2 separate regions of the Homo sapiens genome follow, and region 1 is linked to region 2. The links come from fine-mapping of genetic effects on gene expression. A gene starts in region 2. The other region holds a variant in brackets. All regions are shown on one strand. Distances are between the middles of the regions.

The links.
Region 1: its variant is fine-mapped to the expression of QRFPR in prefrontal cortex (GTEx, PIP 0.97).

Annotation. Positions count from the first base shown.
Region 1 is chr4:121,506,521-121,519,429 of GRCh38, reverse strand. LOC107986309 (a long non-coding RNA gene) reads right to left here. Exons shown (of 3, transcript XR_001741806.2): 3 at 3,819-5,002. Among named protein-coding and RNA genes, the nearest start is that of QRFPR, 130 kb to the right of the region's middle. The variant G/A (reference allele first, on the strand shown) is at 6,560.
Region 2 is chr4:121,375,588-121,388,496 of GRCh38, reverse strand. It overlaps QRFPR (pyroglutamylated RFamide peptide receptor), which reads left to right and starts at 7,479. Exons shown (of 6, transcript NM_198179.3): 1 at 7,479-8,189. The coding sequence starts at 7,850. RefSeq lists an enhancer at 6,909-7,693.

The sequences.
Region 1 (12,909 bases), 130 kb before region 2:
GGGGAACACAGTGCTCCCAAAGGTGGGGGATGGAATAGATGGAGGCTTTAGGGGATTTCAGACACACGACTCAGTTTATTTCTGAGCACGAGTCACTTTTGAATCTGTGAAAAATAATTGGTGAAACACGAAGGGAACTGGAGTAGCTGTATTAGATGATAGAAGTAGACATCTCCATGATTACTAACATGGCGAAGCTAGGGAAGCCCTTCAATGGCTCCTTATTGCACTTGGAATAAAGACAAGGCATCAATCCTACATAAAAGGGACCCTACTTACCTCTCCTCCCTCTTCTGCTTCCCTCAAATTGTACGAGCCAGTCACATGGCTGTCTTCCAGTCCTTTAAATGCATCTGGCTCTCTTACCAGCTGGGCCTCTTTGAATGCTGTTCACTCTGCCTTGACATCCTTTCCCTTTCTTAGCTTGATTAATTACTACTTATTGTTAAAACCTTACCTTTGAGGCTACTTTTCCCAGAATGCATTTTCCAACATTATTCTCTGGGTTATGCCATCCCCATCTATGCTTCCATGGAGCCTCCAAATACTCCTAAATATATTCCCATAGCGCCTACCATATGGGAAATGTATATTTATTTAGTTTAACACTTACTAGAATGAAAACTTCATAAGAGCAGGGATTGGATCTGTGCCTTGTCCACCTCTGTATCTTTAGTCTCTAGCATAGTTCTGGGAACTGAGTAGAGGCTCAAAAATATTTAGTGAAGGAAGAGAAGGTAGAAACTTAAAAAGGAAGGGAGGAAAGAAAGATTACAGGTAAGGAGTGAGTAGGAAACAAAAAATAATAATAATACTTCATTTGGGCACAAAAGATGACTCTTGATAATAACAACAAAATCCCTCTACCATCCTCTTTGACTCACACGAATGTTTATGGTGGTGTTATTTATAATGGCTAAAAAATGGAAACAACCCAAATGATAAATGGCTAGACAAAATATGGTATATCTATGTAAAGGAATATTATTCAGCAATAAAAAGAATAAACTACTAATACATGCTACAACTGGATGAACTTTGTGAACATTCTGCTAAATGAAAGAAGACAGACACAAAAGTTCACTTATTATATAATTATATTTACATGAAATGTTCAGAATAGGCAAATCTATACAGACTGAAAGTAGATTAGTGGTTTCCAGGAGTTGGGGAGAAAGATAGTGGAAGTGACTGTTAATGGGTATGGAGTTTGCTTTTAGGATAATGAAATTGCTCCAAAATTAAATAGTGATGATGGTTGCACAACTGTGGGTATACTAAAAGTCACAAAATTATTTAATTTAAGTGGGTAAATTGTATGGTATGTGAATTACATCTCAATAAAGCTATTGTTTTTAAAAATATGGATGTCAAGAACTTGGAATACTGGTGTAATTACGGCTTGGCAGAATCAAATAGTGCTACTTCCCTTCCCCAATCAAACAACTATGGCTTTAGACTCTGTAAAAGTAGGATTCTGAAACACTGGATGAATTTTACATTATGTTATTGCTTATAAACTAATTCAACTCCAGTGCAATGGAAGAAATAGATACAAGGAAAAAATCAGTACAATTCTACTTTCAAAACCACTCCATTTAATCTTCAGAAAATTTAAAATAAAGTTCATAGTTCGATATTGAAAAAAAATTCCGTCATAGCTACTTCACAGCTCCCAAAAGTAAACTGTAATGGTGACCCCAAATTGTATTAATTTATGAAGAAAATGCTACACTTTCAAAAATAAGACTTCCTGTTTTGAAGAGTCAATGCATTTGGAATGCAACATCTTCCAAAACAACACAGAGTCAGTAGGGAAATACGGTCATCTACACACAGGCTCAATGTATACAAACAGAAGAAAATTTAATGTTTATAGAAAGCCACACAATATGGAAAGCTTTGCTCATTATATGGCAAAATAGCTGATGGGAGGAAGCACCAACTGTCACCACTTATTCAACAAATGTGTTCTATAAGTTTAGTGGAACACATTCAATAACAAACTCTGGCTTATTGAATTGCATCAGGAGCAAAGGCAGATGAGTGATTCATGCTCTCTGAGAAGGAAATCACAAGGCTAGTATTCTTAGGGTCTTCATATTATTTCTCCCCAAATTACTTTTGTATTATGCCCCTGGCACTAGCGTTCACAGATGGTCTTCTACATAACACTCACACTGAAGTAAATATTTTAATAAGCATTAGAACTAAGCAAGAAGGGAGGAGGAGAAAAATCAGGGAAGATGGAGTTCAAAGAAAGAGTGAAAGCAAGATAGAGAATCACAGAATTAAAATACTATTTTGCATAATGCTATCATCAATAAGAATAACAATAAAAATATACTTGTATAACATGACGTTGGAGATTTCTTAAAATTATAGCTACAATTATGTGCCATTGGAGGTTAGGTAGAGTCAGGCATAATTATATTTGGCAGACACAAAGTACAAATTATATTTGTACTTGTCACCACTACTGACCTCCCAAATGTGTTGGTTTCCGATGTTTCTCCCTGAGCAGGCTGCTAAGCTGTGTTTACTATTCTTAAGATACTTCAAGGTCCCACTTAACTCCTCAGATTTTCTTAAAAAGTGACTGATGTGTGGACTCAGCAGCAACTAAGCCAAATGTCTTTGCAATGTCAACTGATAAATCAGCATCTATTCTCATGAGCTCTTATTGTGGCTTCCTGTACTGTAGGGGCTGGAAAGCTATAACGCATATTTTTAAAAGGTGTTTTTGATGCAAATGGGGTTTCATGATTAAATGCACTGAAATCTGATTTGGGAGATAGAAGGAAGATAGAAGCCATTTTCCTACTGCTTTTTAATTTGATCATTTTCTGCTGGCAAGCAGAGTTATTGACGTGAGTTTTCCTGCGGTAGTATTAGAATGCCCACACAATGGCTGTATGGTTGTCAAGAGACACTTGCTATTGGAGCAGTGGTGGTTTCCTGTTTTATCACAACTTACGGTGATGCATTATAAAATTCAATTTTTCATGAACAGCTTCCTAATTGTTCACCTGTGTCAGAATTAGCAGCTCTACAGGTATGTCATATCTGTAATATTCTGCGGGGGTCATTCTTGGAAGCTTAGAATCAAAGCCTGCTTGTTTTTCTAAAGATTTTTTAAGCACCTAATTCCCATTGTTAAATCTGTTTAAAATACCTAGAGGGGTTTTGAGTTACTGCACTAGGAACTCATACACTAGCCAAGAGAGGTCATTAGTTTTATAGATGAGGCAGTTTAGTAATTGCTCAACTTAGCTTGTAACATTTAGTGTAGAACAATGATCCAGGTTTTTATCTTCAAGTCTAATCCATATGATGTTAGTAATATGGAAACTCCACATAATTTCAAGCATTGTTTTAGATGTATGCAAATATACATTTATTTATATATTGTGTTAGTCTCTTTGCGTTGCTACAAAGGAATATCTGAGTCTCAGGAATTTATAAAGAAAAGGGGTTTATTTTGGCTCATAGCTCAGCAGGTTGTACAGAAAGTGTGGCACCAGCATCTGCTTCTGGTAAGGGCCTCAGGAAGCTTACAATCATGGCAGAAGGCGAAGGGGGATGCTGTGTATCACATGGTGGGAGAGGAAGCAAGAGAGTGAAGAGGAAGTTCCAGGCTCTTTTAAATAACCAGATCTGGTGTGAACTCATAGAGGGAGAACTCACTGATTATTGTGAGGATGGCATCAAAACATTCATGAGAATCCACCCCCATGATCCAAACACCTCCCACCAGGCCCCACCTCCAACATTGGGGATTATATTTCAGCATGAGATTTGGAGGGGACAAACATCCAAACTATATCATTTAACCTCTGGCCCCCCAAATCTTATGTCCTCCTCACATTGCAATATGCATCATCCCTTTGCAATAGTCCCCCAAAGTCTTAATCATTTCAGCATTAACTCAAAAGTCTAAAGCCTCACTTGAGACTCAGGGTAAGTTCCTTCCACCTATGAGCCTGTCAGATCAAAAACAAGTTATTTACTTCCAAAATACAATAGTATCATTGTATAATAGTATCATTGGGTCAACATTCCCATTCCAAAAGGGAGAAATTGGCCAAAAGGAAGGTGCAACAGGCTCCATGCAAGTCTGAAACACAGCAGGGCAAACATTCAAACTTAATGTCCAAAATAATCTTGTTAACTCCATGTTCTGCATCCAGGGCACACTGGTACAAAGGGTGGGCTCACAAGGCCTTGGGCAGCTCTGCCTCTGTGACTTTTCACAGGTCAGCCCCTGTGGCTGGTCTCACATGTTGGCTTTGAGTGACTGCGGCTTTTCCAGGCTCAGGGTGCGAGCTACTGATGGCTCTACCATTCTTAGCTATTGAGGCAGTGGCCCCATTGCCACAGCTTCACTAGATAGTGCCCTGGTGGGGACTGTGTGGGGGCTCCAACCCCACATTTCCCCTCAGCACTATCCTAATGTTTGTTGTAGGACTTTCTCCTTAGTTCAGCTAAAAGCCAGGTTCTTGTCACTTGACCATCAAAGATTAGCCCCGCAGACAATTTGAAGGGTGAGAAAAATGGAATTTATTGGGTGAAAAGGAAAAAAGGGAAACAGAGACACTCGGCGAAGTGAGAGTCTCGCTAGCTGGCTTCCCACCTCACAGATTGAATCCCAGGTTACCGCCCCACATCAGGAGAGGCCAGGCTCCTCCCCCATGCAAATGGTGTGAACTTTCCAACGTTCCACCCCAGTGCGCACTCCTCCCAGTGGGCAAGCTGGTCAGAGGTTCTGCCAGGGGGCGCTTCTTACTTGGCTACCTAATTCTGCCACTCTGAAGAAGTACATCTAACTGCCATTAGAATAAGGATAAGGATAAGGACGAAGACTGATCTTAACTGCTTCCTGCTGACAGGGGGCGCTGTTTTGGGAAAACGGCAGTCTCCCTCAGAAGCTTATTTAAGGGTCCTCAGCAGAAGGGGCCATTGTCTGAGGCTCTGGTTGCATGACTGTGTGGAGTTTGCTGGCCTGAAGGTGAAAAGAGAAAAACCAGGTTATTAGAAAACATGTATCAAAATCAAACAAGTAGGGAGGCGGGTAAGGATAGCTCAAAAATCCCAAGGCCTTTTACCAGTTTGCACAGGGAGAGGGAGGCCAAAACCTTCCATCATTGAAAGGGCAGAGGTTTGTCCTCGCCTGAATAGACGCTTACTCTGGATATGGGTTTGCCTATCCTGCACACAATGCTTCTGCCAAGACTACCATCTGTGGGCTCATGGAATGCCTTATCCACCATCATGGTATTCCACACAGTGTTGCCTCTGACCAAGGCACTCACTTTACAGCTAAAGTAGTGAGGCAGTGGGCTCATGCTCATGGAATTCACTGGTCTTTCCATGTTCCCCATCATCATAAAGCAGCTGGATTGGTAGAATGGTGGAATGGCCTTTGAAGTCACAATTACAATTCCAACTAGGTGACAATACTTTGCAGGGCTGGGGCAAAGTTCTCTAGAAGGTTGTGTATGCTCTGGATCAACATCCAATATATGATATTGTTTCTCCTATAGCCAGGATTCACTGGTCTAGGAATCAAGGGATGGAAGTGGAAGTGGCACCACTCACCATCACCTCTAGTGATCCACTAGCAAAATTTTTGCTTTTTGTTCCCATGACATTACATTCTGCTGGCCTAGAGGTCTTAGTTCCAGAGGGAGGAACGCTGCTACCAGGAATCACAACAATTATTCCATTAAACTGGAAGTTAAGATTGCCACCTGGACACTTTGGGTTCCTCCTAGCTTTAAGTCAACAGGCTAAGAAGGGAGTTACAGTGTTGGCTGGGGTGACTGACCCAGACTATCAAGATGAAATCAGTCTACTACTCCATAATGGAGGTAAGAAAGAGTATTCATGGAGTACAGGAGATCCATTAGGGCATCTCTTAGTATTACCATGCCCTGTGATTAAGGTCAATGGGAAACTACAACAGCCCAATCCAGGCAGGACTACAAATGACCCAGACCCTACAGGAATGAAGGTTTTGGTCACTCCACTTGGAAAAAAAACCATGAGCTGCTGAGGTGCTTGCTGAAGGCAAAGGGAATACAGAATGGGTAGTAGAAGAAGATAGTCATCAATACCAACTATGACCATGTGACCAGCTGCAGAAATGAGGACTGTAATTGTCATAAGTATTCCCTCCTTCTTTTGTTAAAAACGTGTTTGTGCATGTATACATTTGTAGTAAGAACATATCTTCACTTTATTTCCTTTTTCCTTTATAATATGACATAAGATTTATTGACTGCAATTCAAGTATTGTTAAATTTATGTAATAGTTACTAGGTTGGGGATTGGTGCATTTCCAGTTGTACATAGGACAGTTGTATTATGTTAGGCATAATTATGACCTTATTATTGTCTTTATTTGAAAATTACGTATGATCTCAGAAAATGTGTATGGGTTCAAGTTGACAAGAATGGACTTTTGATTGTTAAAACTGAGTGTCAACTTGATTGGATTGAAGGATACAAAGTATTGATCGTGGGCGTGTCTGTGAGGGTGTTGCCAAATGAGATTAAC[G/A]TTTGAGTCAAAGGCAGACCCACCCTTAATCTGGGTGGGCACAATTCTAGTTAGCTGCCAGCATGGTAGAACATAAGCAGGCAGAAAAATATGAAAAGAGAAACTGGCCTAGCCTCCCAGCTTACATCTTTCTCCTGTGCTGGATGCTTGCTGCTCTTGAACATTGGACTCCAAGTTCTTCAGTTCTGCAACTCGGACTGGCTCTCCTTCCTCCTCAGCCTGCAGATGCCCTATTGTGGGAACTTGTGATCATGTGAATTAATACTTAATAAACTCCCCTTTACATATATATATATATATATATATATATATACACATATATATATATATTCCATTAGTTCCATCCCTCTAGAGAGCCCTGACTAATACACATAGTTTGCAATATATTCTCCCATTCTGAAGTTTGTCTGTTTACTCTGTTGAAGTTTCTTTTGCTGTGCAGGAGCTCTTTAGTTTAATCAGGTCCCACTTATCAATTTTGTTTTTGTTGCCATTGCTTTTAGGGACTTAGTCATAAACTCTTTGCCAAGGCTGATGTCTACAATGGTTTTTCCTAGGTTTTGTTCTAGGATTTCTATAGTTCGAGGTCTTTAATCCATATTCAATTAATTTTTGTATATGGTGAAAAGTAGGAGTCCAGTTTTATTCTTCTGTATGTGGCTATCTAGCTATCCCAGCATCGTTTATTGAATAGGGAGCTTTTCCCCCTTGCTTATTTTTGTCAACTTTGTTTCAATCAGATGGCTGTAGGTGTGTGGCTTTATTGCTGGATTCTTTATTCTGTTCTATTAGTCTATGTGTCTGTTTTTGTATTAGTACCATGGTATTTTGGTTACTGTAATGTATTGTAGCTTGAAGTTGGGTAGTGTGATGTCTCTGGCTTTGTTTTTCTTGTATAGAATTGCTTTGGCTTTTTAGGTTCTTTTTTGGTTCCATGAGAACTTTGGGATGCATTTTTTTTTTAGTTTTGTGAAAAATGATGTTGGTAGTTTGGCAGGAACAGTGTTGAATCTGTAGATTGTTTTGGGCAGTATAGCCATTTTAACAGTATTGATTCTTTCAATCCATGAGCATGGGGTATTTTTCCATTTGTTTGTATCATCTCCGATTTCTTTCAGCAGTGTTTTGTAGTTCTCCTTGTAGAGATTGTTTTCCTCCTTGGTTAAATGTATTCCAAAGTATATTCTTTTTTTCTTTTTGTGGCTACTGTAAATGGGATTGCATTCTTTATTTGAGTCTCAGCTTGAATATTATTGGTGTATGAAAATGTTACTGATTTTTGTACACTGATTTCAAATCCTAAAACTTTAGTGAAGTTATTTATCAGTTCTAGGAGCCTTTTGGAGGAGTCTTTAGGGTTTTCTAGGTATAGAATTATATCATCAGTGAAGAGAGATAATCTGACTTTTTCTTTTCATATTTAGATGCATTTTATTTATTTCTCTTGTCCGAATTGCTCTGGCTAGGACTTTCAGTACTATGTTGACTGGGAGTCATAAGAGTGGGAATACTTTTCTTCTTTCTGTTCTTAAGAAAAATGCTTCCACCTTTTGCCTATTCAGCATGATGTTGGCTGTGGGATTGTCATAGATGGCTTTTATTCTTTTGAGGTATGTTCCTTCAATGCCTAGTTTGTTGAGGATTTTTATCATGAAGAGATGCTAGATTTTATATTTAAAAAGCTTTTACTGCATCTATTGAGATGATCGGATGGCTTTTTAAAAATTCTATTTATGTGGTGAATCACAATTATTAATTTGCATATGTTGGAACAGTCCTGTATCCCAGGAATAAAGCCTACTTGATTGTGGTGAATTAACCTTTTGATTTGCAGCTGCATTTGGTTTGCAAGTATTTTGTTGAGGGTTTTTGCATCTACGTTCATCAGGGATATTGGCTTGTATTTTTAGTTGTGTCTTTGCCAGATTTTGGTATCAGAGTGGTGCTGGCTTCATAGATTAAGTTAGGGAGGAGTCCCACCTCCTTGATTATTTTTAATAGTTTCAGTAGAATTGGTAACAGCTCTTCTTTGCACATCCGGTAGAGTCTGGATGTGAAATTATGTGGTTCAGGGCTTTTTTGGTTGGTAGGTTTTGTTATTACTGAATCAACTTCAGAAATCAATATGGGTCTGTTCAGGGTATCAGTTTCTTCCTTACACATCCTGAGAGGTTGTGTGTTTCTAGGAATTTATTCATTTCCTCTAGATTTTCTAGTTTGTGTGCATAGAAATGTTCCTAATAGCCTCTGAGAATCTTCTATATTTCTGGGGGATTGGTTGTAAAACCACCATTGTCATTTATTAAGTATCTGCTATGTGCCAGGCCCCATGCTGAGCACTGGGATTCCCCTGCCCTGTGGAGCTAACCTACACCCGCATCAATACACAGTCACAGTGGTGGTGAGGTCTGAGAGGAAAGCCACAGGCCAAGTAATGGCATAAGATCAGGAAAAGCCCTGGTCTGGCAGCAGTAAAGGATAGTGTGAGGGGTGAGGAGGCTGGGAAAGGAGAAGCTTAGAGGCACAGGCAGGGGCCAAAGTGGGTGTGCTTTGAACACAAGGGAAAGACATTGGACTTTATCTTGAGGGTCACTGGAAACCCAGATGAGTTTTAGGCAGAGCAGTGACTTGTATTTTAGAAAGCCTAGCTTGGTTGCTAAGAGCAGGTGGCAACTTCCAGGTGAGAGATTATGTAGCCACCATCTGAGACTCAGATACATAGAAAGCAAGAGATGGAGGGAGAAAAGCAGGATCAGGGACTGGTCTTGGTAGGTGATCAAAGCTCACACCAGATCACTGATGAGATTCATGGGCTGCTTACACAGGAGAAGTGACACGACTGGCCAGATAAGAGGAGCGGCCAGCTATGGACAGCTGAGCTTGGGGATGACATCTAAGTGGGGGTCTCTAGGTGGGAACAGGCTGATTGCAAGTTCTGGTGCTTAGGAGAGGGGATAGAGCAGTGGAAATGGCCTGGGCTCCCTCGTGGAACCCAGCCATGAGTGTGGAGCATCAGAAGAGAGACAAGGGAGGGGCCTAGAAAGGAGGCTGCAAAAGGGTGGCCTGAGCAGTGGAGGACACCAGGAGCATGTCACCTGGAAGGAGCAGAGGAGGGTAAGTTTCAGGCCATAGGGCATGGCCAGCTGGTCTAATACAGCCAAAGTCAAGGATGATAAAGACAGCAGCAATGTGGGGGCCATCAGTGCCCCTAACCAGAGGAGAGTCCCAGGTGAGTGGGAGAGGAGGAAATACAGACAGCCAGATTCAATGACCCCCCTCCTGGAAGCTCTGCTGGGACTATGAGGGGAGAGAGGAGACAGCACGTAGGTTCACAGGGTGACTTTCTATTTAGATGCTGAGCAGAAAGTGCAGTTTGTGAAGGGCTGGTGTTCCCATCACAGTAATGCAGAACTGGCTGACTGTAAAATGGCTTTGCCACTCACAGACCATGTTTTCACCTTTGGTGTCAAGTGGTGATCCCCTTAACAACCCTGTGAGGTAGATGCTGCTGCTTCTGCTTTACAGATGAGTAACTGGAGCCTCCGAGAGGTGAAGTCAGTGGCTCCTGGTTTGCAGCTCATACAAAGCAGGAGCAGGATCTGAATTGGGGGATTACAATTTGAGATGAGATCTGAGTGGGGACACAAAGCCAAACCATATCATTACTCTTCAAATATTTTAAAAATATAATTTTTTCCCAATGCTCAGTAAAACATGATAATTGCTTGAATGAAGTGTTGATTTTATCTTTTATAGAAAATCAGAAAATTCAAATTAAAAATGGCAGAAAAAAGTGTAAAAAATTAGAGTTACAGAAAATAAGATAAATTTTGTAAGACTTAATATGTTATAATACCTCCTAATTTGCCTGCAAATCTGTGAAATGTGTGAAATTAATGTAAAACTTTTCTAAACATTATCCTAGTTTCTTCAGTGTAGAGACACAAATGCTTGGATCAACAATGACTCTGCTAAATATAATTTCATAGTCCTTGGGTAAAATATTTTAGAATTCATGAATGTAGATGTGAAAAGATAGAAAAAAATATTTCTTTTAATTTTCAAAAAGGGCTTACTATAACAGAAGACTGCTATAGATCAATAAGCTTAATATGTATTATGCTATATTCCAGGACTGATTATTAGACAAATATTTGAGGCTTCTAGACACAAATAAGTAAAATATTTTACTTACTATGCTATATGTACTAACAGAATGTCATGACAATTGAACCTCTAATAATCTTTCTTAGAGTTACTAGATTGACAAATAAGGGCAAAACTATAGCCAAATATGAAGATAAGGATTAGAAATAGCCTTTAGCAAACAGTGAGAAAACTACAAAGATTAGTTTATGATATAATTGCCTTAGGGATACAAGTGCTACTGTAAATATGCATAATACAATGCCTAGGAAATTACAGACTCCTGAAAGAGAATTGTAACTCTACTACATATTGAATACAGTGGATGAATAGGTTGAAATAGTATTTAATGTAGCACTATTAAAAGTAAATGTTCAAAAATGCAGGTATCTTTTTTTACTCAGAAAATTAAAAGTTTAAGATAATGAATTACTTTAAGATCATATGGTGTAACTTAACATCTTAAGGTGTAACATGTGAAAAGTTTAACACACTCTCCACCACTACCTCTGTTCCTCATCTTCCATTTACAGTCATGTGCTGTATAATGACATTTCAGCCAGTGACAGAAAACATAAGTGACAGTGGTCTCATAAGATTATAATGGAGCTGAAAAATTCCTATCATCTAGTGACATGGTAGCCGTCATAATGGCATAGTGTAATTACTTTGTTTTAAAAATAAATGTAGTATATCATAAAGGTATAGTGCTTATAAATTCTATAGTAATATGATGTCCTAGGCCTTGATTCACTCACCACTTACTCACTGACACATCCAGAGAAACTTCCAGTTCTGCAAACTTCATTCATGTTAGTTTCCCTATACAGGCGTATCATCTTTTAATTTTTTAAACTGTATTTTCACTGTGTCTTTTCTAAGTTTAGATAAAAATACCATTGTGTTATAATTTCCCATAGTATTGAGTATAGTAACATATAGGTTTGTAGCCTAGGAGCAATATGCTATATACCATGTAGCCTAGGTGTGTAGTAAGCTGTATCATTTAGGTTTGTGCACGTACACTCTATGATGTTTGCACAAAACCAAAATTACCTAAGGACACATTTCTTCAGTATGTATTCCCATTGTTAAGTGACACAGGATTGTATTCCTCTGTCCATTTCAGGTTAGTTCTTGCACCCTCCCTTCCATAGGAACTTTTCTCATGTCATCATGACCTCCTTATTACTAAATATGGTGAATATTTTTAGATTATTATATTAATTTATTTATTGACAGCATTTTATATTTCTGACAATTTAATTTCTTCTTTTCTTACCTATTAATGTTTTTTCTCTTTCTTTTACAAAATTATGATCCTATCATTTTATAAAAATGATTTTACAAATGAGAAATATTATAAAAGAAGGTTATAAACAAGCAATACAGAGAAGTGTGGAGTTGAGGGCAAAATAATAATTTCCAAATCTGACCAACTTCATATATCTTTTAGCAAAATTCAGTGACTGTCATTTTAGACATCTGTGAGGGGACTTATATGAATACACACACACACACACATGCACACACACACAGACTAGTTCATTTAAAAAACATTTATAATTTATATTATTTTATTTTTACTAAGAAGTATTAAACTTTGTTACTTGCATAGAAAGAAATAAAACTCAAGGAACTGATAAACTATTTTTTTGCAAATTAAAAATTTTAAACTGACATATACAATTTTTTACTTATTGTGGAATGGTTAAATCTTGCTAATTAACAAACGCGTATTACCTCATATATATAAATTACCTCAAATATTTATCATTTTTGTGGCAAGAACACTTAATATCCACTTTTTAAGCATTTTTTAAGAATACAGTCATTATGTAAAATAATATGGCAGTTCCTCAGAAAAATTAAAAATGGGACTACCATATGATACAGCAATCCCACTAGTGGGTATATATCCAAAGGAAATGAAATCAACATGTCAAAGAGACCTGCACTTTCACATTTATTGCAGCATTATTCACGATAGCCAAGATATGAAATCAACCTAAGAGTCCATGGATGGGTGGATGGATATAGAAAATGTGACACACACACACACACACACACACAAACACTATTCAGCCACACACACACGAATACTATTCAGAGACACACACACACACAGACACACACGAATACTATTCAGCAACACATACATACATACACTAGAATACTATTCAGACACACACACACACAAGAAT
Region 2 (12,909 bases):
GTCTTATAGTTTTAGCTCTTATGTTTATGTCTTTGATTAATTTTGAGTTAATTTTTGTATGTGTAGGGTAAAGGTTCAAATTCATTATTTTGCATACTAATACCCAGTTTTCCCAGCACCATTTGTTGAAAGACTGTCCTTTCCCCATTAAGTGGTCTTGGTACCCTTGCCAGAAATCATTTGGCCATGTATGTGAGAGTTTATTTCTGGGCTCTCCATTTGATTCTATTGATCTATCTGTCTATCTTTATGGCAGCACCATACTGTTTGATTATTATAGATCCGTTATAAGTTTTAAAACTGGGAAATGTGAGATCTCCAATGTTAATTCTTTTTCGAGATTGTTTTGGATATCTTTTCACCCAAGCAAAGAAAAAAAATTGTTTTGGTCATTCAGGGTCCCTTGAGATTCCATACAAATTTTAGCATAGGTTATTCTATTTCTGCAAAAAATATAATTGGGATTTTGATAGGGATTATATGAAATGTGTACATTACTTTGGGTAGTATTGACATCTTAGCAACATTATGTTTTCCAATCTATGAACACTGAATGTCTTCCCATTTATTTGTGTATTTTTAAATTTCTTTCAGCAACATTTTGTAGTTTCCAGTGTACAAGCTTTTTTCCTCTTTGGTAAAGTATATTCCTAAGTATTTTATTGTTTCTGATACTATTGCAAATGAAATTGTTTTCTTAATTTCCTTTTCATGTTGTTCTTGTCAGTGTATAGAAATGCAACTTATTTTTGTGTGTTGATTTTGTATCCTGTAACTTTGCTAGAATTGCTTACGAGTCATAGCAGTTTTTTGTGCAATCTTTAGGTGCAATTATTTTTTAAACATAAGTTACCTCCAGTCTTTTATTATGGTAATTAACATGGATAAAAATACCCAATATATACAATTACATAATCTCTCTCATTCTCTCTCTTTTGCTGAAAGCACTTTTCACAAAAAATCAATTTATTCTGGGCTTCCTGAAATTACTCTTTTTAGATATTTTTGTATCTGTTCGTATACATAAATAAACATATATATATACATGTATACACACACACACATCCCTCATATAATTTATAAAATTCCTGCTCTGTAGCAGAGTCCAGAATATTGATTCCATGCAAACTTGTAGCATACTGTGGCTACTACCCCTGCTTTTTAAAATTTCTCATTGAGATACTCTGCTACTATGGTGTCAGAAATTTTAAAGCTCCTCAGTCCTCTTTATTCAGCTTACATTTTAGAAACTATAGCCAAGAGATCATACAATCTTTTCTAAATATCATTAACTTGGTTTCTTGAAGCTTAGAATCCCTATCTGACAATATGTAGTATGTTCTACCTCATCTCCCTCAGAGTTGGCAGCTTCTCAAGCTTCTGTCACTTCCACCTTAGTATCAACTCTTTCCTCATTGGGCAGAATTAAGAACAGAAAACCAAGTCTCCCAGAAACTTTTTCCTTCTGAAAGACAAAATTCTCAGGAAAGTGAGGAAAACACCACATGCTATGCCTTTAGACTACTTATACCTTTAGCAAACATCTAGTGAACTCCCCATCTCTGACAATTTGGTAATCTTTTCTAAGGAAGGTTTGATTATTGCAACATTTCACTGACAAGATAAAGTGCAGACAGTCTCATAAAATTACTAGTTGCCTCTCCTTTTGTATTTATCCAGATACTTTCTTCCATGTTCCTATCTTTGAGGGTAGAAAGCTCTTTGGCGATTCTTCTTCACCCTGTTAGCTTGTTTATTTTGGAAAATGGACCCTCTGTCACTGTTGTTTTCTAATCATGAGAATTGCCAATAAGCATCAGAAGCCAATCCTGCCTTTCTGGCTCGCTTTATCCCTCTCTCTAACATAATCATTCCTACTTCTGTGCCTTTGGAGAGGCTACTCACTCTGTGACCTTTCTCTTTTTCAATTTATCCTTCCTTTTAGCCTTGATTTACACTCCACATTCCCCACACAGCATGTATGGATTTGCCTTTGCTTGAATTTCCAGAACATGTTCTTTCTGTGTGTGGATGTGGCACTTGTCACCTTATTTTGAGCTATGAATATTTCTGTCCCTCTTGCCCCTCTAACAAGATGGGGCTGGCAAACTGCTTCTGCAAAGGGTCACAGAGTAAATATTTTCTGCTTTGAAAACCATACAGTCTCTATCACAAATATGCAACTGTGCCATAGTAGTGTGAAAGCAGCCAAGGATGATATGTAGATGAATGGGCATGATATGTTCCAGTAAAATGTTTTTATTTTTACAGGCACTGAAAGTTGAATTTCATACAATTTTATGTGCCATGAAATATATTCTCTTTATGCTTTTTAAAAATGATTTGAAAATGTGAAAACTATTCCTTGCCCATGAGCTATACAAAAACAGATAGTGAACCATGTTTGGCCCAGGCTGTAGTTTGTTGACCCTGAACTGATAATGAGCTCCCCAAAGGCTGAGCTGTGTTGCATGCCCTTGTGGGAGTTACCCCTTAAGACTGGGTCTGTTTCTTCACCATACTACTCTTAATGATGAACACAGTGCCTGGCATGCAGCAGACATCCAAAAACGTTATTGAATAGAGGCATAAATATTCATGTACTTATCTAGTTTTCAAACAATAAGCAGGTATTTCAGGAAATGGTCATGAAGAGTTTCTAGGGGGAGAAGGAAAGGTCAGGAGTACTGGCAGTGTCTTGTGAGATTAGCCTTGGGCTACCTTAGTAGGGGTATTTTCACCAGGTAGCGAACTGGGTGAGTGAGATGTGAGTGGTTGAGATAAAGTGGGTTGGGAGGTTGAAGAGATGAGGGTTGAAGAGGTGTAGAGAAGTCGTGAAAACGAAGACTAGTGCAATATCAATAGAGGGAGGAAGACCCAAAAGAGTTTAAAACTTTAGAGGCTAATGTCACTTTTTTGTACACTTAGCTCCAATCAAACTCTAACTTCAATCATGCATTATTTCAAAGAATAATTCTCATAATCTGGATTCATAGGCTTTTCAAATATCCTAGGGAGCCACTATGAGAGTTGATCTTTGCTTTTCACACTTCCCTGTTCCCCTATACTCCTTTACTTGTTTTGAAGAGTGCTGAGTAGAACCGGGAAAGATGAGCACTATTGCTGTCTGCAATAATGTATGTCCACATAAAGCACAAGGAATTAAATATAGTCATACCAGACCTGCTCTGGCCTTAAGAAAGCCCTGAGATTTCTTCTCTGGGTCACATGGGGCTGGAATCAGCCTGCAGCTATGCTGCTGACCTTCTTTGATCCCAACACTGTGGACCAGGGAGAGGCAGGGCATGTCTTCCATCTATGTGGTTCCTATGTAATTCGAGAGCCATCCTCTATGACCCAAACTTTCAGCCCCTAGTCCAGAGAATTGGACTCATTTGTGAACCATTGCTCCTACAATGGGTTATGATTGGACATCTTCCCTTAGGTTTCCTTCAACAGTTACAATATGAACACATCCTTTTCAAATGCCCTTGGAGCATATACCAAAATATATAATATCCTTAGCAATAAAACAAACCTCAACAAATTTAAAAGAATGCAATTATACAGAGAATGCTCTTTGACCAAAAGGGAGTCAAACTAGAAAACAGAAAAATAGCAGAAAAATGTTCAAACACTTGGAAACTAAATAAGACATTTCTAAATAATCCGTGGGTCAAAAAAGACATTTAAAAGGAAATTAAAGAGTACATTGAACTGAATGAAAATGTAAATATAACACATAAAACATGTGGGACACAGTTAAGCCAGTGCTGAGAGGGAAATTTATGGCACTAAATGCTTACATTAGGAAAGAGAAAAAGTTCCAAGTCAATAATTAAAGTTTCCACCTCAAGAAACTAGAAAAAGAGTAGCAAAATAAACTGAAAGCAGGTAGAAGGAAGAAAATAATAAGGATAAGAGCAGATGTCAATAAAATTCAAGAGAAAATAATAGAGAAAATAATAGAGAAGTTGTTAGCTAAGAATTGTTTCTTTGTAACTAGCAATAAAATAGCCAAACCTCTAACTAGATTGACAAAAGAGAGAGAGAAGGCAAAAATTATAAAATCAGGAATGAGACAGGGGATACTCTTCAGCCATACAAAGGATATTAAGAGAATACTATTAACAACTCTACACACATAAATTCAAAAGAAATTTATCAATTCTTAAAAAAACTCACCCAATATGGAATAGATAATTTGAATATCACTATACTATTAACAAAATTAAATCCATCATTTAGGAACACCTGTAAAGGAACTCTTCATGCCCACATGGCTTCATTAGAGAATACTACCAAACATTTAAAGAAGAATTAATACCATTTCTACCAAACATTTAAAGAAGAATTAATACCATTTCTACACAGTCTTTTCCAGAAAATAGAAAAGGAGAGAATGCTTCTCAATTCATTCTATGATGCTATTATTACCTGACTGCCAAAACCAGGATAAAAAATACAAAAAGAAAAAAAAGTTACAGACCAATAGCCCTCATGAAGATATACATAAAATTCTTTAAAATCCTAACTAATAGAATTTAACAATATATATAAAGAATTACACACCACGACTAAGATGGGGTTTATTTCAAATATTCAAAGCTGATTCAATATTCAAAAGTCAATCAATGCAATTCACCATTTTAACAGGCTGAAGAAAAAAATCACATTGATAGTATTAATTGATGCAGAAAAATCATTTAACAAAATTTAACACCATTGATAGAATCTCTCAAGAAGTTGAGAATAGACAGTAACCTTCTCAAGTTGATAAAGAACATCTGCAACTAACATCATACTTAATGGTGAAAGAAGGCTGAATACATCCTTATAAGATTGAGGACAAGACAAGGATGATCTCCATTCTCCATTGCCATTTAACATAGTAAACTGTGTACTCCAACCATTGCAGTTAGGCAAAAAATAAAAAAAAAAAAAAACAAAAGAAAACAAAAACAACAACCAAACAAACAACAGCTAAAACCAGAAATAAAGAGCATACAAATCAGAAAGGAAGAAATAAAACTGTCTTTCTTCTCAGATAATGTGATTGTCTATGCAAGAAATCTACCAAAAAACCCTCTGTATTAGTCCATTTTCACACTGCTGATAAAGACATACCCAAGACTGGGCAATTTACAAAAGAAAGAGGTTTACTGGATTTACAGTCCCACATGGCTGGGAAGACCTCACAATCAAGGTGGAAGGCAAGGAGGAATAGGTCACATCTTACATAGATGGCAGCAGGCAAAGAGAGAACTTGTGCAGAGAAACTGCTGTTTTTAAAACCATCAGATCTCATGAGACCCATTCACTATCATGAGAACATCGTGGAAAGACCCACCCCCATGATTCAATCATCTCCCACTGGTCCCTCCCACAACACATGGGAATTATGGGAGCTACAAGATGAGATTTGGGTGGGGACACAGAGCCAAATCATATCAACCTCCTAATAAAATTAAGTGAATTCATCAACATTGGAGGAATCAAGATCAACATACGAAATAAATTGGATTTCTGCATACTAGTAATGAACACATGGAACCAAAAATTAGAAATTCAGTACAGTACCGTGTACAAATGTCCGCCCAAAATGAAATACTTAGGTGCAAATCTAAAAATATGTACAGGACTTACATGCTGAAAACTGTAAAATGCCTTTGAAATAAATCAAAGATGTAAATTTATGGAAAGACATTCTTCTCATGGATTGAAAAACTCAACCTAGTAAATATGTCAATTTCTATCAAAATCCCAGCAAGGTTTTTTGTAGACATAGACAAGTTGATTGTAAAATGTATATGAATAGGCACAGGTCCTAGAATAGTTACAATAATTTTGAAAAATAAGAATGAAGTATGAGAAATCATGCTACCTGATTTCAAAACTTATTATATAGCTACAGTAGTCAAGAATGTGGAGGATAGACACATAGATCAATTCAACAGAATAGAGAGCCCAAAACATAAAATGTAAAACTATAACACTTTTAGAAAAATACCTAAGAGAAAGTTTTTGAGAAATAGGCTTTGGTGAAGTTAGACTGAACACTAAAAGCTATCTATAAAAGAAAATATTGATAAATATGACTTCACTAAAACTAAAAGCTGTTCTGTGAAAGTCCCTGTTAAGAAGATAAATAACAAGCTACAGACTGGAAGAACATATTTGCAAACCGTTTACTAACAAAGGACTTGTATGTAGAATATAAAAAGAACTTTCAACAGCAAATAAACTAAACCATGCAATTAGAAACGGACAAAACACATGGAAAGACATTTCACCAAAGAAGATTCAAGGACGGCAAATAAGCACATGAGATGTTCAATATTACTTGCCATTAGGTAAATGTAAATTAAGGCCCTAAAGAGATATCACTACAGATCTATTAGAATAGCTTAAAAAAAAAAAGCAGCAAAACCAAATGCTGGCAAGGATGTGGAGAAACGTAACTTCTCATGCATTGATGGTAGAGATGGAGACTTGTACAGCCACTCTGAAAAGTAGTCAATCTCTTTAAAAATTAAATATACACATTACAGATTCAATAATCAAAACTTTTGGCATTTCCTATAGAAAGGAAAACTATGTTCACACAAAAACCTGTACATGATTCTTTATAGCAGCTTTATTTTTAATAGCTCAAAATGGTAATCAACCAAAATGTTCTACAAGAGGTGGATGGTTAAATAAACGGTGATACAGCCTCAGCAATAAAAAGAAACAGCCATTAATACATGCAACAACTTGGATGGATTTAAAGGGCATTAGGCTGAGCGAAGAAAATTCAATATCAAAAGGCAGCATATTGTATGATTTCCCTTACGTAATGTTCTGACAAAAGTTAAGAGAGAACATATTAGTGGTTGCCAGGAGTTAGAGATGGTGGAGGGAGGGGCTAGGTGTGAGTATAAAAAGCACCAGGGAGATTTTTGTGGTGATAGAAGAGTTTGTATCCTGACGGTTACGGGAATCTACACTTGAGATAAAAACATGCAAACACTGTACCTGTGTCAAATTCCTGGTTTTGTATTGTTCCGTAGTTAAATAAGATGTAATGAATGAAAGAAACTGGGTGAAGGGTGGGTACGCAGGATCTTTCTGTATTATCTTTGCCATTTCCCAAGTTCTATATTTTAACTATCTTAATTATTTTTCAATACAGAAAATAATTTAAAATAAGCCCTATTTGCCTTGGGTAGTTGTGGCTCCCATTATTACGCAAGAGGAGAAACTTGAAACTGTGGAACCCCCCAATACCCAGTTTCACATACAAGCATTACCTGACTGGGGCCATGCCCTGAGAAAGGCGCTGGGCGGCAGCAAGTTGGTGAGCCAGGGAAGTCTTCCCTCGCCCTGAGGGTGCGGGGAAGCGGCGTTGGCGCCACTGAAGCTGGGTGTGAGGGAGGCGTCACCGAGTTCAGCCCCACCCTCCACCGCTCCCCAAGCGGGTCCGGCGTCCGCATCGCATGGCCAGAAGGCGGGGAGCCAGAGGCGCCAGGACCCTCGCGTGGCGCTCCAGCACCCCAGACCGTGGCGGCGCCTCGCCTTAGGGAAGAGCAAGGGAAGAACTTTATTTGAACCGCGAACATTTTTTGGTCACTGAGATCGAGTCTCCCAGTGCTTTGGCTTCCCGCCTCTTTATCGTGGGTTTGATCCCTGAGCTGCTCTCCTTTCCCGAACCTCCCGGGGTGCAGCCTAGAGCCCTCCCGCGCGGCTGACTCCAGAGTAGAGGAAGGGAGGCGGCCTCCGGCTGGTCCCCCGAAGCCCTCGCTGCCCCGCAGATGCGGATGGCCAGCCAGTAGCGGGCGGTGGCCCCGCGTCCCGGGAGCGCACAGCAATGCAGGCGCTTAACATTACCCCGGAGCAGTTCTCTCGGCTGCTGCGGGACCACAACCTGACGCGGGAGCAGTTCATCGCTCTGTACCGGCTGCGACCGCTCGTCTACACCCCAGAGCTGCCGGGACGCGCCAAGCTGGCCCTCGTGCTCACCGGCGTGCTCATCTTCGCCCTGGCGCTCTTTGGCAATGCTCTGGTGTTCTACGTGGTGACCCGCAGCAAGGCCATGCGCACCGTCACCAACATCTTTATCTGCTCCTTGGCGCTCAGTGACCTGCTCATCACCTTCTTCTGCATTCCCGTCACCATGCTCCAGAACATTTCCGACAACTGGCTGGGGGGTAAGAGTCGCGCCCCGCTCCTTCGCTCCTTCTCTCTTAACCCTCTGCCTTTCAGGGGATCTCTCTCTCTCTCTCTCTCTCTCTCTCTCTCTCTCTCTCTCTCTCTCTCTCTCTCTCTCTCCTCTCTCGTCTGTCTGTCTCTCTCTCGTCTGTCTCTTCCTTACACTTCTCTGTCAAATGAATCCGGTGCTCTTTCTTAGAACTTCGCCACCTGTGTTCACCTGGACATAAGTTCTTTTGGCCGCCTCTGATTCCCCTCCAGTGCTTCCTCCTTGTGGCTTAGAGACATAGGTTGGGGAAAAGCTTCGGAAAGGTCCCGAGCAGTGAGGCAGGAAGTCGCACCCCTCGCCACTTATTTCAGCTCCCTTTCCCGTCATTACCAGGTTTTTCTCCCCTAGTTTTCTTACTAAAAGTGAGATAAAAATATTTCAAATAATTAAACCAAAGTTAAAAATCTCATTTCCTCATTCCCCCACCCTCCAGCCTCACTTCCCAGTTGCTTGCAGACAGCTTCTTGTACCTATGAGCATAAAACAAATATAATTCATGTGCAGAAAAAATATATTGAACTAGTCCTTTTAAAAACTGTATTAAGTGTCATGCAGGAAGAAGGAACACAGAAAACTGATGCCCTCCTATTATAAAAGAAGAGATAACATTCTCCTCCTTCCGTATAATGGGGGAAAAAAAATGACAGAGGAGAGGTGGAGTCACTGAGTTGGGAGCAGTGTGTGGAGGTTGGAAAAAAAGATATATTTCTTGAGATGATCCAGCTTTTCCAAGAACACAGCTGGAGAATGCCCTGGTGTAAACCCAGGAGCAGTAGTGTGTTGTATTCTCACCAGTGCTTAAGGTGCACCATGGGCCTCCCCTTTTTCACGGTTGGGTGTATTCTTGTGGCCACATCAAAATGGTTAGAAATGTAAGAGAAATAGATCATTATGCCTTCAATCTCTGCTATTTCTATCCCATTACTAATTCTCTTAAACTCATGGAGGGTGTTTCATCCTACCATTACCAATTTGAGATCGTGAGCATTGCTTTTTTTCTCATTAGCTTAAACTGAGTTTGCTGTTAGTCAGTCAGAATGTTAAAGTCCTTGATTCTTATCAATCTATAATGTAAATATTTTCAAAAAAGCATTAAACATTGAGTACAGAGCATTGACTTGAAAGTAATACACAATGTGGAAAGTAAGACCTTGATTTATGGATTAGAGACTTTCTTATGCACTCTGATGCAGTAATTGTATTTGGGCATTTTAAAGTTGCTCAGTGCAACTAACTCCATAAAATTAATGGGGTATTTTTTGATCATCATACGGAACTTGGTTTTTGGGGAAAAGCACATGAGTTTTCATTTCTAAATGTTTGTGAAAGCAGATTTATGAGGCTTCTTTGTGCTGGGGATGATTATAGCTCCATTTGTAAAGGTGAAAATAATTATGCAAAGTGGGATTTTATGGTGGGGATCAAAAGAACTGGATTACTATTTTGGCTGTAATACATGTTAATTTAGTATGTCTGGGTCTCAATTTTTCAGTAAAATATTAGGGATTAGAGAAGTTTGAAAGTGCAGTGAGTCTGGCCAGGCGTGGTGGCTCACGCCTGTAATCCCAACACTTTGGGAGGCCGAGGCGGGCGGATCACGAGGTCATGAGATCGAGACCATTCTGGCTAACACGGTGAAACCCCGTCTCTACTAAAAATACAAACAACAACAAAAAATTAGCCGGGCATCGTGGCACGCACCTATAGTCCCAGCTGCTCAGGAGGTTGAGGCAGGAGACTTGGCTTGACCCCGGGAGGCAGAGGTTGTAGTGAGCCGAGATCACGCTACTGCACTCCAACCTGGGTGACAGAGCAAGACTCCGTCTCAAAAAAAAAAAAAAAAAAAAAAAGTGCAGTGAGCCAGATCTTTAGCTCCAGTTCATGTTGGGGAATCATGGCCAAGAAAGGCCATATGGTGCATCTTCCATCCTCAGGGCTTATTTGGGCACTGCCAAGGTTTTTCTCAAGTTTTCTTTTCTCCCTGCTTCTTACTTCATGGAGAACATTTCACTTTAGCTTCTAAATACTGAAGGAGAGTAATATATTGCTCATTTATTTTATAGGGTTAGTGTGAGAATAAAGTGTGTTAGTAAAAGTGCTTTGAAAAATATTGGTCATGCCATGAAAGTATAAGGTATTAATTCTATTAAGGGGTGTTTAATTGGAGGTGGCCTATGTTTATCTGGGACCAGATTTATAGAATAAATAATGATCTTATAAATTGAGTAAATAATACCAAAATTGAAGTGCGAGGGAGAGGTGAGAGCATGCAGAGGGGCTAGAGATCAATATGAAAATAGAATTAACTTGCGCATTATAGGACAGGATAATCATGGCAAAATTTCCTTGATAAATTAACCAAAGTTCAAGAGAATGTAATCTAAGAGCCAAAAATTAATTCATAATTTATTATTTTACAAAGCTATTGAGGATCTCCTATCTGGAAAAGTGTTCTACCTTGAGAGTACAAAAGTGAGTAAAGTCTATCTGTGCCCTTCAGGACCTCAGAGAATAGGAGATGGCCCCAAAATGAGCAAAAACAGGATTTGATAGAAAAAGGATCCACTTTGCTCTACGAGCACAGAAGAGTCAGGAAGGCTTCCTGAAGGATGTGATGTTCAAGCTGGGTCTGGAAGAATAATTCAGAGAATAATTTAGACTCTTTCCAGCAGAGGATGGAGTGTGTTCTAGGAATAGGGGTCAGTGCCAAGTTGGAGGGAAGAAAGAAGATGGTGTGTTCCAAGAATACCGTGCAAGGCATTGCAAGAATGCACAGGTTATATGTGGGGAATGGCAGGAAATGAGACAGAAAAGTAGTGCAACTGGGGAGGAAAAAAAAAAAAATATATATATATATAGTTATGTAAAAACCTAAAATATGAATACCCCTCAAATTCCTTCAGGGGTGAGGTAGGAAACACAAACAAAGCAATGAAGATCACCAGGAAGCAACGGCGACAAAAGGAAGACTGTCTCCTCTAAAGGGGGCAGGATTGCAGCATGCTGGAGTGGTGCCCAGGATTGTCACATCTTCTTTTGTTGTTGTTCTTGCTTCCCCACCTCTCCTTCTGAAAAGCTGGGAATACAGATTTTTATGATGCTGACTTCTAAGTCAAATACAAAAAGTAAAATGCAATCAGGTAAAAGAAAACATCTCTATGGCTTGGTCAGAAATAATTCATGGACTTCCAGTTTGTCACATCTCTACATTGCCTGTCTCTCAAATATTTCTGACAATGCTAAGACTGTGAATGACTGTTTTATTCTTCTTTCAGTCCATTCCTCTTTCTTGCTGGGGACCAGCAGCACCTATTGAGTCAAAACCTGCTTTTTAACAAGGTTCTCAATTGTTTCACGTGCACATTAAAGTTTGATAAGCACTAGAGAAGTCAGCTCAGGTCTTTATAAGGAAAAAAAAAAGTTTGTTAAGTACTACTTGAAGTAGTAATGGCTCTTAGACCTGGCTACACAGAGAATCTCCTGAAGGGCTTTTGAAAATGGCCTGCGCCAGCCCCAGCCCAAACCAGTTACACTTGTCTCTTTGGAGCCAGCCACACTGCCTTACAGAGCCCAGTGTGCACAACTCTACTCAGGTCCCCTTTCAGGGACATCATGTTGTTATCTTAAAACTGGTTGTGGTGGGAGTATTCACATCATGGAAATCAGCACTTACTAGTTAGGCCTGTTTTTTAAAAAAGTGAAAAAAAAAAAAAACAAACCCAGAAATCAAACAGTTGCTTTCCCAGCACACCACTGAGCAAAGACATTGAGTTTTCTTTTGTACACTGCTGGGACCATGAATAATAGGTGAGGCAAAGTGTAGCCACAAACATGTTTTTACATGAATTACACTAAAGTTGGAAAGAGATACAGCTGATCCACAGCATCTAAGTGTGCCCAGCATGGAGGCAAGCTGACATTCAATTCCTTTCATCCACCTTACCATCATTGCCTTATTGGCTTACCTTTGATCTACCAGTTGACTCACTCTCTACTCCCCAGGACTCCTTCCAACATGGAGCTAGCAGAAGTGGCGATTCTCTGCACCCAAATATTATAAATGGCACATGTTTATGAGTTTTTTGTTACTCATATGAGGGTGGAGTTGCTCTGCCATGGCCCTTTCCTTTAGGAAAGTTTTGTCTCTGTTCTCTTCTCTGATTTACTGGGCTAGACTGCAGAAGTGGATTTGTCCATTGCCTCCTTAGGGCCACCAAATTTACCTGTCCTTATCTGCAGCCTGTTCCTCCTCATTTTGTTTTGTTTTTTCCTCCTTTTTATCTTTTTCTTCACAATGTCCAAATGCTCCTCCAAATTCACTCACTGAACATGTTCTGTTTCTTCCAGCTAAATACAGAACTGATTTTGCTTGTGACCAGTGCTGCAGAACACCACTCTCTTCTCTAAGTTTCCATGAACTAGTCTTTTTTTGCCTCTTTGTTTCCTTTATGTCCCTATCTCTGTATTTTCTGCCTTTTGAGAGTTCTCAATCTTTCTCTTATTTTGCGAGTAAGTGTCCACTGAAGCTTAGCATGCAACCTCTTTTCTTTCATCATCAATTTCTGCATAGAGGCTATAGTCATGACTCTCACTTCTTTGCTGATGGTTCTGAAATAGTATCTAATCAATATCATAAGCCATGGTCTTTCACCTGATCTGAAGACTTGGCA